Linked DNA regions of Homo sapiens: region 2 is reported to be linked to region 1. The links are microRNA targets in miRTarBase. Many come from high-throughput screens and were not tested one by one. Region 1 holds a microRNA gene; the other region holds the end of a gene's coding sequence.

Region 1 (4,266 bases):
TTAGACGGCTGAGAAATTGAGCCCACTAAAGCAGCAGCTTCCAAACATGAACAGGTCTTATTATGGGGAAGATCTGCTTTCCTTATCACCTACAAGTTGGCACAAGGAAGGAAGATTATGTGACTTCACTGCACCTCCTCCTCCATTTCTCCTCAGAAAAGAACATACAGTGTTAAGAATCCAAAGAGAAGCTCTGGCACTCTCACGACAGGATGGATGAGGAATATGGCTTGCCACTTATTTCAAATTGGGAACTAAGTCTCAGTTGGGCAAGGGCTACACTCACAAGGAGAAAGTATGGGGAACAAAGCACCATACACCTCACCTGGGCATTCGCAGCCTCCTCCTTTGGCTCGGTTTGCCACAGCAGCTGCATAGGAGCGTGCATCCAAGATCAAAAGCTTCTGCGGTTGGATGGCTAAACTCTCTGCTCCTGAAGCATTTGACAGAGAAGAATCTAGGGACACAGAGGGAGAGGGCATACTAAATGAGCCTGTCTCTCCCAGAACTGTGCAGAATTAGACCCACAAGCACATCTTATGGCACAAAAAAGGCTCAATAAAATGAAATCCCCTAACCAAAACCCTTGATACATAGGATTTTTCTCTTTTTTTCTATGTGGCCTTCTTATGAAAGATGAGAAGGATTTATTCTCCAAAACTGACTCCCAGAGTACACATGGGGTTCACACAGCCCAGTCTCTTATACTTCATTTCTGTATCTGTTGTCCTTTCATGAAGCCTGGCATTTCCTGCCATGGTCTGCAGATACTGCAAGTCCTCTATTACATAAACACTCCATTTTTGTCACAATGGCAAGAAAGACAACAAACACACTAATATCTTGATTCAGGTTTGAAACAAAGGGTCTTCTGATTCTCTGCCAAGACCCATGACTCCTCAATCAATCCCATCAAGTGAAGCTCTGCACATTCACTTCTATAAAAGTAAATCTATGTCTTGTAAGGAAGAGGCCATTTCAAGAAAAGGTTCTTAGATGCTATAAAAATCATTGCCATGGGTCCAGGGAGCACCTTACCGAACTCCACGTCAGAAAGGTCTCCCCCATTGGGAAAGTCTCGAGAAGTGTTCCTAGTTGACAGCTTGCTGCCACTCGATCGGGAGTCAGAGGCACAAGCTTTGGCTACTGACTGTACCAGATGCTCATCATCTGCATTTCGCCAGCCCCACCAGCTAACCTCTGGCTGTCCACAGCGGGCAATGACAGCTCCATTGCTCTGGTGCCTGTGTGAGGAACAAGAGACAACAACTGTACCCATTCAGATGCTCTCTGTACTCACACAAAATAGATTTTAAGTGCCTTAATGAACAGTCTAATTCTAGGTAAGTGTTGGGTCAGCTTCAAGTCCTCTCAGTATTAAAGAGGGTAGAAATCTTACACAACCAACAAGAACAAACAACAAAACCTGTGTGTCTTTCTCAATTACCATAACATCACGGAGATCCCTGTAAAGTTACCCAAAAAAATGACTAACAGGGGTCAGGCATGGAGGCTCACTCTGCAATCCCAGCACTTTGAGAGGCTGAGGCAGGAGGATCACTTGAGCCCAGGAGTTCAAGACCAGCCTGAGCAACATAGCAAGACCCCATCTTTACAAAAAAGTTTTTACAAATTAGCCAGGCATGGTAGCACATGCCTGTAGTCGCAGCTACTCAGGAGGCTGAGGTGGAAGGATCCCTTGAACCCAGAAGGCTGAAGTTGCAGAAAGCTATGATTGTGCCACTGCACTCCAGCACTCCAGCTTGGGTGACAGAGCAAGACCCCATTTCCAAAAAACAAAAAAGAATTAATGTGTACTCTTAGTGAAAATAAATCAATATTCGTAACTTAAATCTATAGGTACTACACTAATTCTGCTACCCAATAGTGAAATCTGCTACCTTCTTAATGCTGAACCAAGAGCCCGCCTCTGGGAATAAAACATTTACCTGGCCCACAGTGAACTGCTTTACAAAATCTCCTGAGATTTCATGAGTCACAGACTGCTCTTATAATAGGCAGATAGCTCAATGAGCCAGCTACCCTTCCTAGGGCTCTTAAGAAAGAGAAGAAGAGCATCAACCTCAGAAAACCATACTCTGACATATCCTTTTCCAATAAGACAGACCAGAAATCACAGTCTACTTTAAGGTGCTATTAAAACCCAGACTTTTCCTAGTTAGGCAATTTTAACTGATAAAAAGTTAGAAAAATTCTATTACTTGGCAGTAAAGAGGAATAAAGTTCTGATACAGGCTAGGACACTGATGAACCTCAAATATGTTATGACAAGTGAAAGAAGTCAGTCACAAAAGGCAACTTATTGTACGACAATTAACATGAAGTATCCAGAATAGGCGAATCTATAAAGATGGAAGTAGATTTCTGCATGTAGTGACTATTATAAACTCGTAGTTACTTAAGGGAGCTTGCCTAATTCTAAGTTGGGGTTACTTAAAACGAGTATGTTTCTATATAAAACTGAAGCACTCTATGTTTTACTAGCAGGGGCTTCATCCATTGGACATCTTAATTATTCAGGGCTAGGGTGGCTGGGTGCCCTGTGAATGGGTTTTTTGGGACGATGAAAATGTACTGTAATTTGTTTTTACTCCTAAAACTCACAAATAAGTTAAATTTGGCACTAATCAAATTCCACTGAAATCACCAGTTTGCTTGTAGTTTTTAAAGCCTCCCTCCCTGGGAGACAAGTAGCTGTAAGTACTTGTGTATTGCCAACATGCTCAACTGGCTCACGTGCTGAATGGGGCCAAAATAGAAATAAAACCTCAATGATTCTTTATAAAATGTCTCCTAGCAAATAACAGGCAACCACTGAGCTGAATGACTCCAAACCCTGCACAAGAGGCTGGTTGGGCCTTTCCTGAACATCCTCCTCTTCTTCAATGCTTCCCAGCAGTGCCCAAGAGGAGCAGTAGATGGCGCTCTTCAGCCTGGATCTTGGGTTTTAGGGGACACTGCATTATAGTAGCTATTAGATTTCAACTGGACTATTGCAATAAACAATTATGTTTTCTGCAGTCTTCTAAAATGCTTCAGACTACATGAAAGATAATTCAAACACTACAGTTAAAAATCACTAAAGGAATGCATTTCTATCACTAACAGAACCAGGCAAAGTATAAAAATTATGATGTCCAACAGATAAAGCCCTCCCTACTAAAACACAGAATGCTTCAATTTTATATAGGAACAGAATTGTCTTAAGTAACCTCAACTTAGATTTAGGCAAGCTCCCTTAAGTAACTAGGAGTTTAGAATAATCACCACATGCACAAAGGAAAAAGCTGTGAACTGCACTACAGATGGGTGCCCTTTACATCATCTTGCTATGTTAGAGCAATCTCTACCTTCAGTTATAAATCCAATTAAGTGCTCTCTCATCACAGTAGGACAAAGCCCTAATCAAGCGCTGGTTCAGCATGGTGCTGTCAAGTAACTGCTGCTGGCAACCTCAGGAATCATGACCCAATCTACAGACAACTAAATTCAGGAAATGGATGTCAAGAGTTCCAGGCATCCTGCCACCTAGGCTGGCAAAGCAGAGCATGGTGGAGGATCCGATTCTTCCACACGCCCCTTACAAAGCTCCCAAATACTACAGCAACCCAGTCTGCATCTCAGCGATACAAGACACATGTTCTGAGACAGAGCCCAGTTCCAGGAAACCTGCCTGATTTTGCATGGATGACTACACCAAGAACTTTGTGATCTTTTGAAAGACTTTCTCTGAAAAACTGCAAATAAAATTTTTCATTTATATATCCTCTTGTATCTCTAGAAAAAGGGGGGGAAAACCTAGGGTGCATGCCCTCTAGAATTAATTTTAGAAGGTGCATGCCCTCTAGAATAAAATTTAGAAAAAAAGGAAGTTTTTCTTCAACCAGCCCTCTTAAGCTTCTCTTCCCAAAGGGAGAATTCACCTAAAGCCTCTTATTTTGCAAATAAGAGTACCTTCCCCCTTTTGGTCAAAGTCAGCAAGCCCCACAGATGCCAGGGCTGCTGACCTAACACAGTTGTTGGCCAGAGCAGCAACTGGCTGCTTTCCCCATTCCAGCTGAGCTGATCATTGATAAGACTCATAAATCCCTTCAGCTTTCACTACTCTCTAGTTCCTGTAGCATCCTTACCACTTGAATGACAGGTAAATTTGGTGACTGACTTTTCTAGGGGTGTCTGAAAACAACAGTGATGAGAATTGAGATTAAAAACGTAATGAGTTCCACTGGGCCAGAGCAAATACTT
Region 2 (4,266 bases), not on the chromosome of region 1:
TACGTCTAAGAAAGCCCTTTATTCTCTGGAGGGCTCACTATGTTCGTTTATGAAAGAGGTTAATAACGCTTTGCTTGATATGCTCTGTTCTGAGCCCTTTATTCTTCCTCTTGATTCACCAACCATGCTATGAGGTAGGAGCTTTTATGATCTCCAATATACATGGGGAAACAAGCTGAAGAGAGTTGTGGTAATTTTGCTTAAAGCCGAAAGCGACCCAGTGACCCAGCAGTCCCATAGATAGTTTTTTGGATAAACATAGAAATTGACCTTCTGGTGTTAAAGCTTGAACCTTATATTTGTTTTATCTGAGTTCCTTCCTCAGAGACCTTCAGGCCTCTCAAAACAGGTATCAAAGAACTGGAACTCACCAGATCACTACATCCAGACGAGATGCCAGACCCCTCATTCATCACAATTGCTTCCGTGCCCCTTCCTAGTTCCTGCTTTCTTAACACATTGGTACATTTCTTCCCTGGTATACGACTCCCTAGTTTTAGTCCCTCAGGGAGATGGATTTGAGACTGAGCTCCCATCTCCGCGGCTGCAGCAGCCGATTAAAGCTTCTTCCTCTCAATACTTGTCATCTCAGTCATCGGCTTTCTGTGCGGTGAGCAGCAGGACCTAGACTGAACCCCTGGCATTTCGGTAACAAAGCCACACAATTAGTCAGTGGCAGAGCAGGCAATCACATCTAGATGTAGGAGTCTGGATCCGGGGCCCAAACTGCGGCTGCTGCCAGCACTGGTAGTTGCTGTTTTCCTCAAGTCAATTTCACGCTAGGATTTCTTGACTGTCTCCTCTGTGCAAGAACCCCTCATAAAAACCGAGAGATTGATACATGGAAAATGCTTTGGAGGAATCTTAGTGTTTTTAAAGTAAAAGTATCATTGGATCAGCACTAAAGTAAAAAAGGCATTTCTAATTTATCAAATCTATAAAGGAGGAAGAGAAAATTTTAAGATCCTGTAAATATTCTTGTGTGTGTGTGTGTGTGTGGGTATACAGTTAGATTTTCCTCACAACTGTAATAATTGGAGGCAGTTTGAGGAATTATTAGGATTAAAACCACGTGGAAATCCAATTCTGACCTAAGTCATTGTGTTATGACCGCAAGGCCTCTCATGCCTCAGAGCACGTGGTGTATGCCTTTGTCCTTGCCGCCTCCTACTGAAATTGTGTCTCCTGTTTCCCAGCCCCCAGTCCATTAGGTCTGTCCAGCGAAGTTGTATTTGGTTACCTGCATGTGTTCTGCACCTATACAGCCCCTGACACACAGGCTTTTCCTTAAGACATTTGTTGCTCTGGTTTTCTTGCTTTTATTTATTAAACAGACAAATGAACAATGATATAAATTAGCTCAAAGTTCACGACGTTCTTGCTACGTTCGTCAAATCCCTTGCCAGGGTACTGGGGAACTGAAATCTCTAAATAACTGAGAGTGATACTGAGAAATGCACTTTTAATATGATTTCACCAAAATCTTATGAAGGGGACACATAGGAAGACATTAACATAGCATTTGTTTTTGCTTTGAGTCAAAATAGAAGCCTCTCAGGCCTGGAATGCCAGGAAGCAGCCTGACTACTAGCAAGGTCTTCAAGTTCCACAGCAGACAGGTCTGCATTTGCTAACACTTGTCTTTCCTTCCACCTTCCACATCCAGCGTGAATTGCCACATTCCTTGACTATTTCAAGAACCCATTGACTGGTATGTCTTCTGTCTTGCCTCACTCATATTCATCCCACATGTGCATTCCAGAGTGCTCTTATGAATGAATCAATCTCCTATCTTCCGCATTAAAAACCTTCCATGGCTCTCCACTGCTTACCAAATAAAGCCCCACCCTTGGCTTTCATAACTCTCCATCCGGATTCAACTTCTATTTTCCTTCTGTCTCATGCCAACCCCAAACCACAATTAAACCAAAGTGTAAACAGCTTTTACATAAATCCTGTACTTTTCCTGCTCCTGGTTCCTTCCTGTCTGAAATTGACTTTCTTGATTCTAATTAGACGTTTTCATAAAATCTTTTCTTCTTTTCTTCAGAGACAAGGGTCTCACTCTGTCACCAAGGCTGGAGTGCAGCGGTATGACTGTAGCTCACTGCAGCCTCAAATTCCTGGGCTCACGCAATCCTCCCACCTTAGACTCCCAAGTAGTTAGGACTTCTGGTGTGAGCCACCATGCCTGACCACATTCTCATAAAAGCTTAATTTGAATCCCTTCCTCCCTCATCACTTTTATAGGTTGTCGCCTTCTCAGCTTTATACAGATCTATATCATTGCCTTGCAATACAGCTCTTAGCTCCTCTTAAATAAGGCCTTGGGCGGCAGGAATACATTTTAAACTTTGTAGTGTGCCCACACCCTGTCCTCCTGCAGCACCCAAAACTTCCTTCATTCAAAAAAGACAGTATTTGTTGTTGTTACAGACACATATTCTCTTCTCTCTAAACATTGGCTTGTAGTTAATGTCTTGCGTATTCTTTTCAATAGGGATGAGGGGATGGAGTAACATAGTAAGTTATAACAGAGCTCCCCTGGCTGGGCACAGTGGCTCACACTTGTAATCCCAGCACTTTGGGAGGCCGAGGTGGGCAGATCACTTGAGGCTAGGAGTTTGAGACCAGCCTGGCCAACATGGTGAAACCCTGTCTCTACTAAAAATACAAAAAGTAGCCGGACGTGGTGGCTTGCGCCTGTAGTCCCGGCTACTTGTGAGGCTGAGGCAGGAGAATCGCTTGAACCCCAGAGGAAGAAGTTGCAGTGAGCTGAGATTGTGCCACTGCACTCCTGCCTGGGCGACAGAGCGAGACTCTGTCTCAAAAACAACAAAAAACAGCAAACAAACAAACAAAACAAGGTCTCCTGAAGTCCCATCTGTGAATCTCACTTTAATTCTACTTTCATACATCATAAACAATGCTTAGTTTGCAAAGTTATTAATAATTTAAGGAGCCTGCTTTTTAAAAGCCAAATTGGACGAGAGTTTTATTATTCCAAAATCCAGTTAAGTGTTTAATCAAATACAATTAAACATTTAAAATAAAAATCAACTATAGTAGAACCAGAGGTGGTGAAGGATAGATTTTATCAATGTGATTAAAAATATTTAAAAGGAGGAACAGCTTCAGAAAAGGAAACAAAAACACAAAAAAAATATTCAAAGTGTTTATCAGGAAAAGAAACACTGAATAGCACTCCTAGACCACAGGCTTCTTAACATGAAACCCAACGAATATTCAAAATTCAAAAGTCTCAGCCCTTGATATTGAGGCAGTCCAGAAGTAGAAATACACCCTAAATCACAGCTTAGGAGTAAGTTTCCAAATATCCATTTTATCATGATTTACATTCAGAGGTGTGCTATCCAGAGAAACCTTCTGCATCTGTAGCTGTGGCACAGAGAACGACACAGACAGGAGGGCATTCCTCCATTTCCCCTTCCCACACCTTTGCTCTAGAATCAGGAAGAGCATCAGTGAAAGTCCCCAGGCCCCTAGAGGAGGGATCCAGTGAACTAGTAAAATGCAGACTAATCAAGATAAAGTGGATCCAAGAAAGGACTTTCATGGTTTGACGGTGAATCTTCACTGGTCACCCTTCTGGCATTAGGAAAACAAGGTAGTATGTGTTCTTCTGATGTTTCTCATCAGTCCAGCTCTTCCGGTTCCACTGGGGATTCTGCCCCAGTCCAAGACCCGATGCTGGTGCCAACACACAGGGTGCAGGTCCTGCCCTAGAGGAGCTCAGCCCTTGGGTCTAATCCATGATTCCTTTGGAATAGAGCGGCCCACATGGCACCACTCAACACTGACTGCAGTCGCACTGAACACCAGGCCAGAACAAGTGTGGGTTCTACTCCTGAAGCAGGCTTCTAGAGATCAGTATCCTCATCACTTCATTGCTACCTGTAAGAGGGAGGAAGGAGGAAGAATTTCACAGCAGCAAAGTCTGAGAGTTTAGTAAAGCTCTGACCAGGCTGCTCCAGGCCTAGTTCAGAGTAGCTGCAGATTTAAACTACAATCATTGCTTTTAGCCTGGGAGAGATGAGATTATCAGAGACTTCTCTACAAAGTACTGAAAAATGTCAGGAAATAATACTTTTTTAAAAACTTCTTCTGATGGTAAAAATGCTTATATAAAGTTTAAAAAGGCAGAATAAAAACAGTATATACAGGATAATTCTAATTAAAATTAAAAATGTACCAACAAAGGCAGAGTAAAATGCCTAAAAGGAGATGTACCAAAATAACATTCTG

The links. Region 1 holds the annotated microRNA hsa-miR-6818-3p (UUGUCUCUUGUUCCUCACACAG, at 1,245-1,266, opposite strand). A microRNA usually pairs through its seed, bases 2 to 8, with sites in the 3' UTR of a target mRNA and lowers its output. Matches are read on the target gene's strand: a 7mer-m8 pairs with bases 2 to 8, a 7mer-A1 pairs with bases 2 to 7 and ends in A, and an 8mer does both.
Region 2: miRTarBase lists ACAD8 as a target of hsa-miR-6818-3p. The part of its 3' UTR that is shown has no 7-base or 8-base seed match.

What each region holds. Positions count from the first base shown.
Region 1 is chr22:30,004,092-30,008,357 of GRCh38, reverse strand. MIR6818 (microRNA 6818) reads right to left here and starts at 1,309; the gene lies at 1,245-1,309. It overlaps MTMR3 (myotubularin related protein 3), which reads right to left. Exons shown (of 20, transcript NM_021090.4): 10 at 1,039-1,244; 11 at 326-457.
Region 2 is chr11:134,264,557-134,268,822 of GRCh38, reverse strand. It overlaps ACAD8 (acyl-CoA dehydrogenase family member 8), which reads right to left. Exons shown (of 11, transcript NM_014384.3): 11 at 2,968-3,915. The coding sequence ends at 3,863. Among named protein-coding and RNA genes, the nearest start is that of GLB1L3, 9.7 kb to the left of the region's middle.